Regions from separate parts of the Homo sapiens genome. Here region 2 is reported to be linked to region 1. Evidence: microRNA targets listed by miRTarBase, many of them from high-throughput screens and not tested one by one. Region 1 holds a microRNA gene; the other region holds the end of a gene's coding sequence.
The links. Region 1 holds the annotated microRNA hsa-miR-802 (CAGUAACAAAGAUUCAUCCUUGU, at 2,606-2,628, shown strand). A microRNA usually pairs through its seed, bases 2 to 8, with sites in the 3' UTR of a target mRNA and lowers its output. Matches are read on the target gene's strand: a 7mer-m8 pairs with bases 2 to 8, a 7mer-A1 pairs with bases 2 to 7 and ends in A, and an 8mer does both.

Region 2: the mRNA of EPC2 is a reported target of hsa-miR-802. Seed matches in the 3' UTR shown: 7mer-m8 at 812-818 and 7mer-m8 at 1,728-1,734.

The regions. Positions count from the first base shown.
Region 1 is chr21:35,718,127-35,722,196 of GRCh38, forward strand. It overlaps MIR802 (microRNA 802), which reads left to right and starts at 2,589; the gene lies at 2,589-2,682.
Region 2 is chr2:148,785,783-148,789,851 of GRCh38, forward strand. EPC2 (enhancer of polycomb 2) reads left to right here. Exons shown (of 14, transcript NM_015630.4): 14 at 523-1,787. The coding sequence ends at 595. Among named protein-coding and RNA genes, the nearest start is that of KIF5C, 87 kb to the right of the region's middle.

The DNA.
Region 1 (4,070 bases):
AGCCAAGGAATGCGAAAGACTGCAGCAACTCCCAGAAGCTGGGGGAGAGCCAGGAACAGATCCTCCCTCACAGCCTCAGCAGGAACCACACCTGCTGACCCCTTGATCTTGGACTTCTGGCCTCCAGAGCTGTGAGAGAATAAATTTCTGTTGTTTAAAGCACCTAGTCTGTGCTACTTTGGGCAGCCCTGGCGAGGTCACGCAGCCACTCACCATCTATCTGTGTGACTCTGGCATGGCTTCTCCTTGCCCTGTCTGTAACATGTAGATGACAATAAATGTCTAAGTCAGAGGGTCGTTAGGAACACTAATTAAATAAATTAACATATGCAAGTGTTTCAAATAGAAGTTGACGCAAAGAAAGAGGTATATGAATGTATTAGTCCGTTCTCACGCTGCTATAAGGGCATACCAGAGACTGGGTAATTTACAAAGGAAAGAGGTTTAATTGACTCACAGTTCCGCAGGGCTGAGGAGGCCTCAGGAAACTTACAATCATGGCGGAAGGAGAAGCAAACATGTCCTTTTTAAAATGGCAGTAGCAAAGAGACGTGCAGAGCAAAAGGGGGAAAAGCCCCTTATAAAACCATCAGATCTCGCGAGAACTCACTCACCATCACGAGAACAGCAACATGGAGATAACCGCCCCCATGATTCAATTACCTCCCACCAGGTCCTTCCCATGCATGACATGTGGGGATTATGGGAACTACAATTCAAGATGAGATGTGGTTGGGGACACAGACAAACCATATCAATGAATATTTCTTAAATAAAAAAAAATTAAAACCAACATCTGCATGAGTCATTATAGGTATTATTAGTGAATCTGCTTGACTCTTCAGTCAGTATGGTATTAGAGGGAAAATAAGAAATCCTTTGGAAAGCCAAAATGCCATTGCTTATTCCAAGCACTGTCTACAAATTGTTATAATCAGAGCTATGTTGTTTTCTTTGTTTTTCTTTAAATCGTTTGGATCTGGCAGTGCCCAGGCCTTTAGGTTTCTAATAAATTATTAATCTAAGAGTTAATAATTCAAGTTAATTGGTGGTATAAGCCACTTTCTCTGGCAAATGTGAGCAAAGGTCACAACTTTTTAACAGCAAGGGTGAAACCTTTTCTGAGGTTTTTTCCCTCCCCCATGGTCTATCATGGAAATATTAAGATATGAAAGAAAAATTTTAACCAGAGCTGGGAAAGCAAGATAATTCCAAGGATAAAAGTGTAGACTGTCAGCCATACTTCCTGGCCAAGCACTGTCTCCATAGCCCTGCTGGAGGAAAAGGAGGTCTCCAGGGAATTCAGGGGACTCCAGCCCCACAGGAGCCCACCCAAGAAGGACACAGCCATGCAGGTTTGTAAACCTTTGACAAGACAACTTATAATCATTAAACATGTTGACTCATTGATCAAAAAAGTTTTGGTTTTTTGTTTTTGTTTTTGTTTTTGTTTTCAGAAAATAAAAGAAGGCATTTAAGAGATTAGCTCACCAATGGGATTTTTCACAAAGAATGATAATTTTCCTAAATTACAAGGCACAGGCTTAAGAATAGAGAACATCCATTCATACTGGGTGACAGCCATAGAATGCTAAGCAAACCCCTTCCACCACTGACTTCTTTGATTTTAATTAATGTATATATGCTCTGCCTTTTTGTTTCCAGAAAGAATTTCAGGTAATTCCTGATTGCAGGCCGCAGAAGCCAAGAAATAAAAGACTTCTTACCCGAACTAATGTGACTTTACTTTCCAGCTCATGGATTTGCCCCTAGATCTGTGAAGCAGCCACAAGTGGCCTAGCTGTTCTGGGTGTTTTATACCTTTTTTGGCCTTAATGCTTATTTGCAAGGTTCATGTCAAGTTACAGGCTGATGTGATGAAATGACTTTTTCCCATTTGGAAAATAAGATTATTCTTAGTAGCTTGTTTCAGTCTTGATTAAAAGATAGATGTAAAATATTCAAAGAATGATGTCTGAAGACTTAAAGATAAAATTTACATGGAAGCCACTAGTTTAAAGAGATTCAGTCAGCTCCTCCAGCTCTTGTTTTTCTAAAGAAAATTTGAATAGCATATGCTTTTCATTGTGCTCCTTTTCAGCCATTTACATATTGGGGAAATATATATTTGGCAACTGGTCCTATTTTTAGGAGTCCTTGAAACTTGCCCTTTGAAAATGTTTTCATTTTTGGCACATATGTGTGTCTTAAGCAGAATGAAAACACAAAGTAAAAAAGAAAAATATGTACAAAAAGGAATGATTTTTCCAGCCCTATGTAGCACAATAAGAAAGCAATCATTCAGTGGTGACTTTAAAAAATGGATTCTTGCCTGGATTTTCCAACGATTTCCTTCTAAGTGAGCGTTTCTCTGCAGAACTGAACTAATGTAAAGAGACAGTTTGTTCCAGTGCCAGAAATGAACCAGCAAAAAAAAGGACGGAGGCTCTATTTTCATAGGAGGAAGTTAACAAAATAATACCCACTCTGTTTCTCTGCAGCCTCTTGTGTCATTTCAGAAGAAAGTGCCATATGCCCATTGCGTGATTTGAAGCGTGTATTCCCAGCCTGACTCTTGGTCACCACTCGTTCTGTTATTTGCAGTCAGTAACAAAGATTCATCCTTGTGTCCATCATGCAACAAGGAGAATCTTTGTCACTTAGTGTAATTAATAGCTGGACCTTGCAAAGGAAGGTGGGAGAAGGAAGCCGTTCATGCATAGACCTGGATAAATTCAGAACAGGCTTTGCGGATCTTTGCTGCCTTTTGACCAATTAAGGTGCCAGAGCCCCAGCAGAAGAGGAAATATGGTAAACAAAGTGTTTTCTCTGGGGCTGTGTGTGTTATAATCCCAAGCTCTGTAACTGTGGTTCAGGAGAGCTCTCTAACTTTCCCTATCAAGCCAGATGACCATCGACTCCCCTCTACGTCTATGTCCTATTTCAGTGTATCCTTCCCACTTTCCTTCCACCACACTGTCTTCACCAGCCTCTAGATAGATACCACTATAGGATAAAAATCAAAAAGAGAGGCCTTATGTTTGATGAGTGCCTCCCCTAGACTATGTGGTTAAATCACTCAGCAAGCTTTCAGAGAATGTGTAATGGGCCCTGTTTTCAAAATGAGAGGACTGAAAAGAGGTTTAGAGAGGCCAGCGCTGAGGTTAGGCTCAGGGAACAGATAGAAATAGCCGATTCAGGACCACATCAAGGGCTCTCTAATGCCGGGATTCTTAGCTCACTTTTCCCTGTATTGTGATCTTTTCTTTCACTTTTTTTTTTTTTAATAGAGATGGGGTCTTGTTATATTTCCCAGGCTGGTCTTGAACTCCTGGCCTCAAGCAATACTCCTGTCTTGGCCTCCCAAAGTGCTGGGGTTGCAGGCGTGAGCCACTGTACCCAGCCTCCTTAACTTTCTGAACTCCTACTTATTTATTTTTGTGACCCTACTTCTTTATTCTTCCTCCTCCTGTACAAAAATGGCTGGATGGATTCCACTTGTCCCTGGACCTTTAAACTCCTGTCCTCCATACCTGAACAAATCCAATTTATCTCTCAAAGTTTCAGAGAGTTCCTAAATACTAATAGTTCCTCACCATCATCTCACTTGCAATCCGTGCATTTCAGAGTTCCCTTCCCAGAGGCCATTTTTGCCTTTAATTAGCAAATGCATACTATTCTAGGATCCATGAGATTTTTTTCCTTCTATTTCTGCCCAAGGAGAAAGCAAACACGTACTGCTGCATTTGCCATCCTAGGTCCATAATCTCTCTGATCTTTCTTCACCTTTAAAAATCTCACCTCATATATCTTTTCTTAGGCTCATCCCTCAAATATTCAGGTTATTTCCCCCAGGCTTCCTCTCACCTCTCTCCTTGTGGCTACACTGGCTAGGAGTGTCCAGCCTCATTCAAGAGGGGGTCGGATCTCCTTTCCCTGCCCTGTTGCTTTCCACGGTGGAACCAGCATCCTCCCTGACTCCCTGCCCCTCCTCAGGAACCACAACTCCCTGTCGCCCTCCTCTGAACAGGATTGTTCTCCATCCATCCTCCTCCCTGCTCAGACCTCCA
Region 2 (4,069 bases), not on the chromosome of region 1:
ATAGTATATTTTAGAATGTTTTTATATTTCTTTCTATGACACTAATACAAGGAGAACAATGAATCAGAAAAAAATTGATTTGCATAGGTTAATAAATACATGATCTTAAGCCTATAGAATTAAACTCTAATGGAAAGTAATTTCAGTAATATTGTGCTCCTAATGATTATTCTTTTTGAGTGTCATATGCTTCATCTCTCGAGAAAAAAAAAAGAAAAACTTGGTTTGTCCTGTGATACATATTTCATAAGTAATTTCTCATTGGCTTCTACTGAAATGCCATGTTAAATTATTATCTTTCCTAAGTAAATAGCCATAATAAAAAAATTAGGAATTAATGGAATTTCTGAGCTGAAGAAAAGTTTTTCTCATTCCTATCTAGAAATGGCAAAAATGGGAATTGTTCTTGTGAAGTCATGTTTAGTTGTAATTATGTAACAATGTTTTTGTAAAATACTAAATGGTAACGTCATGTTCTAGAGAGTATTGATATTTATTTTATCCTTTGCCTTATTACCATAGAGAGAACCACGAACCAGAAAGATTGGGCTTAAATGGAATAGCAGAGACAACAGTAGCTATGGAAGTGACATAACCTAAAACACGTGGCTCTGACCTGTGCTGATGGTGTGCAGTCATTCATATTCCAGCTGAATGCAAAAGGCAACACTCTGTGGATCACAGAGTGTAACAATGGACCTAAATGGACTATAGTATATTGGATGTTAAATCCATATATGATGTATATTTTGTAAAATTGGGAAAATCACTACCTTGTAAAATAGTTTATTTGTATCATCAATATTATTTCTGTTACTTGAATAGTAGATATTCATCATCATGCTTTTGCACTTGAATTTGCAACTGAATGGATTTTAAAAAATAATTCTTTAATGGGATCATGAGCATGAAATGGGATCCTGCATCACTTGTTTTAACTATTTATTTTGCCATGTTTACATTTTGTATCTTGTAAAAATAAATCCAACTTTGTGTCTAAAAAGTTAAAGATTCATAGCTAGGAAATGAAATTCTTGTAATTTTTTTCTAAAGGAACTGTAAAGTTTTCACTTGGTTCATTTTGTTTCACAATTTGACTAGATGGACTTTTTGGTAAATACTTTAGTGGCATTTCACTGTCAAATATGAAGTTCAAGGCAAAATAGTATTTTCTATTACTGTGCAGGGGAAAGGGATGGATCGATACATGCAAATTTAATGTAGTAACTCACTTTTCCATATATTTTGAATGTATATTTCTATTTATGATACCAATTTATAAAAAATAATTACACAGAAAAAATGGAATAGGAAAAATTATGCATCTAGCACATTTAAACTGTGCAAATATGAAAATTTTTCGAGGATTACATTTTATCTGAAGGCTGCATATTTTAACTGGCTTTAAAACTGTAACACATCACATAAAAGATACTTTACCAGGTATGTATTGCATTATATCATTGCAATAATTATTGGAAGTCTAGATATCGAGCCATCCCAGGTGTTGGGCGGGGGGAGGGTTGTGGCAAGATTGTCTTTTCAATTTTGGAGAGTTTTCCTGTGGCTACAAGGCAAGTAACGGGTTGGAAAAAGTCTGACTGTAAGCGTTGGACACCTTCATAGTGTAGTGTTTTAGTGACTTTTTTTATACGGTTCTTGTAAATTAGATACGTGTAGTGGTGTTTCAGAATGTTTGTTTATGCACTAGTTCAGACAACTTTCCCTGTTACTTGTTCTTGATAAGTGAAAACTGCAGGGAAATAAAAAATACATATCAAAACATGGACATGCTGCATATGTGTTTATTTCACAATGTGCACACAGTATAAGTGAAAATTTAAGGGAGATGATAGCACTTAACAGCACTTTTCATGTTCACATGCTTTCCAAGCATTAATGAAAAGAACTATAGGAAGCTCATCTGTGGGCTCTATTGGGTTTCAGATAATCCAATATAAACTACCTTTGATATGAAAGTTCGTAAGATATTTTACAGAATGTAAGTAATTTGCAGTATCGCAGTCATTGAAATGTCATAAGTGAGCCTCATTTTATAAATAAAAGTTTAGAGTAGAATTATATTGCAAGGGGGTTTTGTCAAGTAAGTACTGGGAAATGTAAATATTTTTAATGAATACAATTAAAACCATTTCAAACTTACATAATTTTATACTTTACATTTTTTATATCTGCAGTCCTGAAAGTTGTAAATTGAAATGTCAGTTGAATTAATGGGCCAAGATTTCTGGTGAAAGTGGTTTTTATTCAGGTCCTAAATGTGTAAAGCAATTTATGGTCAAAACCATAGAAAAAATACTAATTTTGTCTTGGTTGTGACCTGATAGGATCCATGCTCGTTTCTGCCATACTACCTCTGGAGTTACTCATTGCTGATTATATAAAGGAAATAATTTTGATTTGATATGTATTATGACTGTGTTCATTCTGCTTATAGTTGGATGTATCTCCTTGCTATTAAGAACTTAAAACAACTTTAGTGCCAATTGCAGAGAAAGCTTTTTTCCCCATTTTACTGAAGTAAAGCATGAAGTGAATTTGCCTTATGTGATATATATGTTATAAATAAGTAAAACAAAAGAATTATCCATTTGTACGGTTTCTGGAGGTGGTGGCAAATCCAGAACTTATAAGACTGATGACCAATTGATTTGTTCCTTTTGAAGTAAAATAGAAACGTAAGCCTTCCTTATTTTGTTGGTTGTAACTGTTTCATGGATGGCATTTCAGTTATGTACATACACATTTTCCACTGCTTCTCTAAAACTTAAGTGACAAATATTTGTTTTCACTTTATTAAATTGAAGAATAGTCTATTTCTGCACTGGACAGCACTGCTCTCTTAGTTTTCTCAGGAAATTAGTGTTGGTACTCGGAGTCCAGTAAGCTTTCAGAATCTTTGGAGAATGTGTTTCTTTGGAATGGGTGGAGGTGGTTAATTTTTTTAAAAAAATAACAAAACGGGTAACTCTCACGTGGTAGGATATTCTTAATTCAGCACAGATAAAAACATTTTTGATTGTATTTTTCTTATTTCTCTACCTTCATAAAGAGAGTACACGCCCTTCCTTTCCCAATAATTCAAGATCATTTTTATGATGTAGCTCTAAGTATATTTGAGGATTTGTTTTCTTTTGCAAAAGACCAAGGGAAAAACTAAAAAATTTATAGGGCACATTTTAAAACTATATATATAACACACACACACGTATATTCTGGCTTTTTAAAAAACAGGAATGTATTTGCAACTGTGCTAGGTGTTTTTTTTTTTATTACTAAGGTTGTTTTAGGGGGGAAGGTAGGGGGAGAACAAGGAGGACCAACATTACAGAAACTTCCCTAGTATGTACTGCTGTATTTGAGTATGATGCTACACTTTTCAACAAATTTTGTTGATCAACAATATACTTGTGACTGATGTGTTTTATTGTCTCTTAACTGACTTGGCAAACTTCCAAATTTTAAAAGGTAAGAATATCTGAAGGGATTATGAATATTACATCCTGTAAGATAAGAGATGTTTTTCATCACTGACAGCAGCATCATAATAGCTAACATCATGGAGCATGGAACATTCTCTCTTAATGACTTACTCATTTACTCCTAACAACAATTCTGTTTAGTAATATTATTTTTCCCATTTTAAAGATCAGGAAGATGAAGTTTAGAGAAGTTAGGTAACTCACTCTATGTCACATAGCTGTTAAGTTACTAAGGAATTAAACTTTGGAGTCACCACACTTCTAACCACACTGCCTTCTACCTTTAACATGAAAGAAGCCCTCCTCAAAGAAGTATTTATTCTATTTCTCAGTCCACTTGTTAGCAGCATCCGTAGCAGTTTAGAATTTCATTTAGAAGACAGCCACCCAACTATTACACCACGAGACTAAGTGAATTATATCCAACTGTGGCTTCTAGCCATCCACTGAGGAAACCCAAATATTCTTTTCTGCCTGCCGGACCTAGTGAGTAAGTGCTAAAGCTCTCAACACAAAGCAATGGGAGCGAGGTCTGGTCCAGGTCTTGGCTGATTTAGCACTTTCCA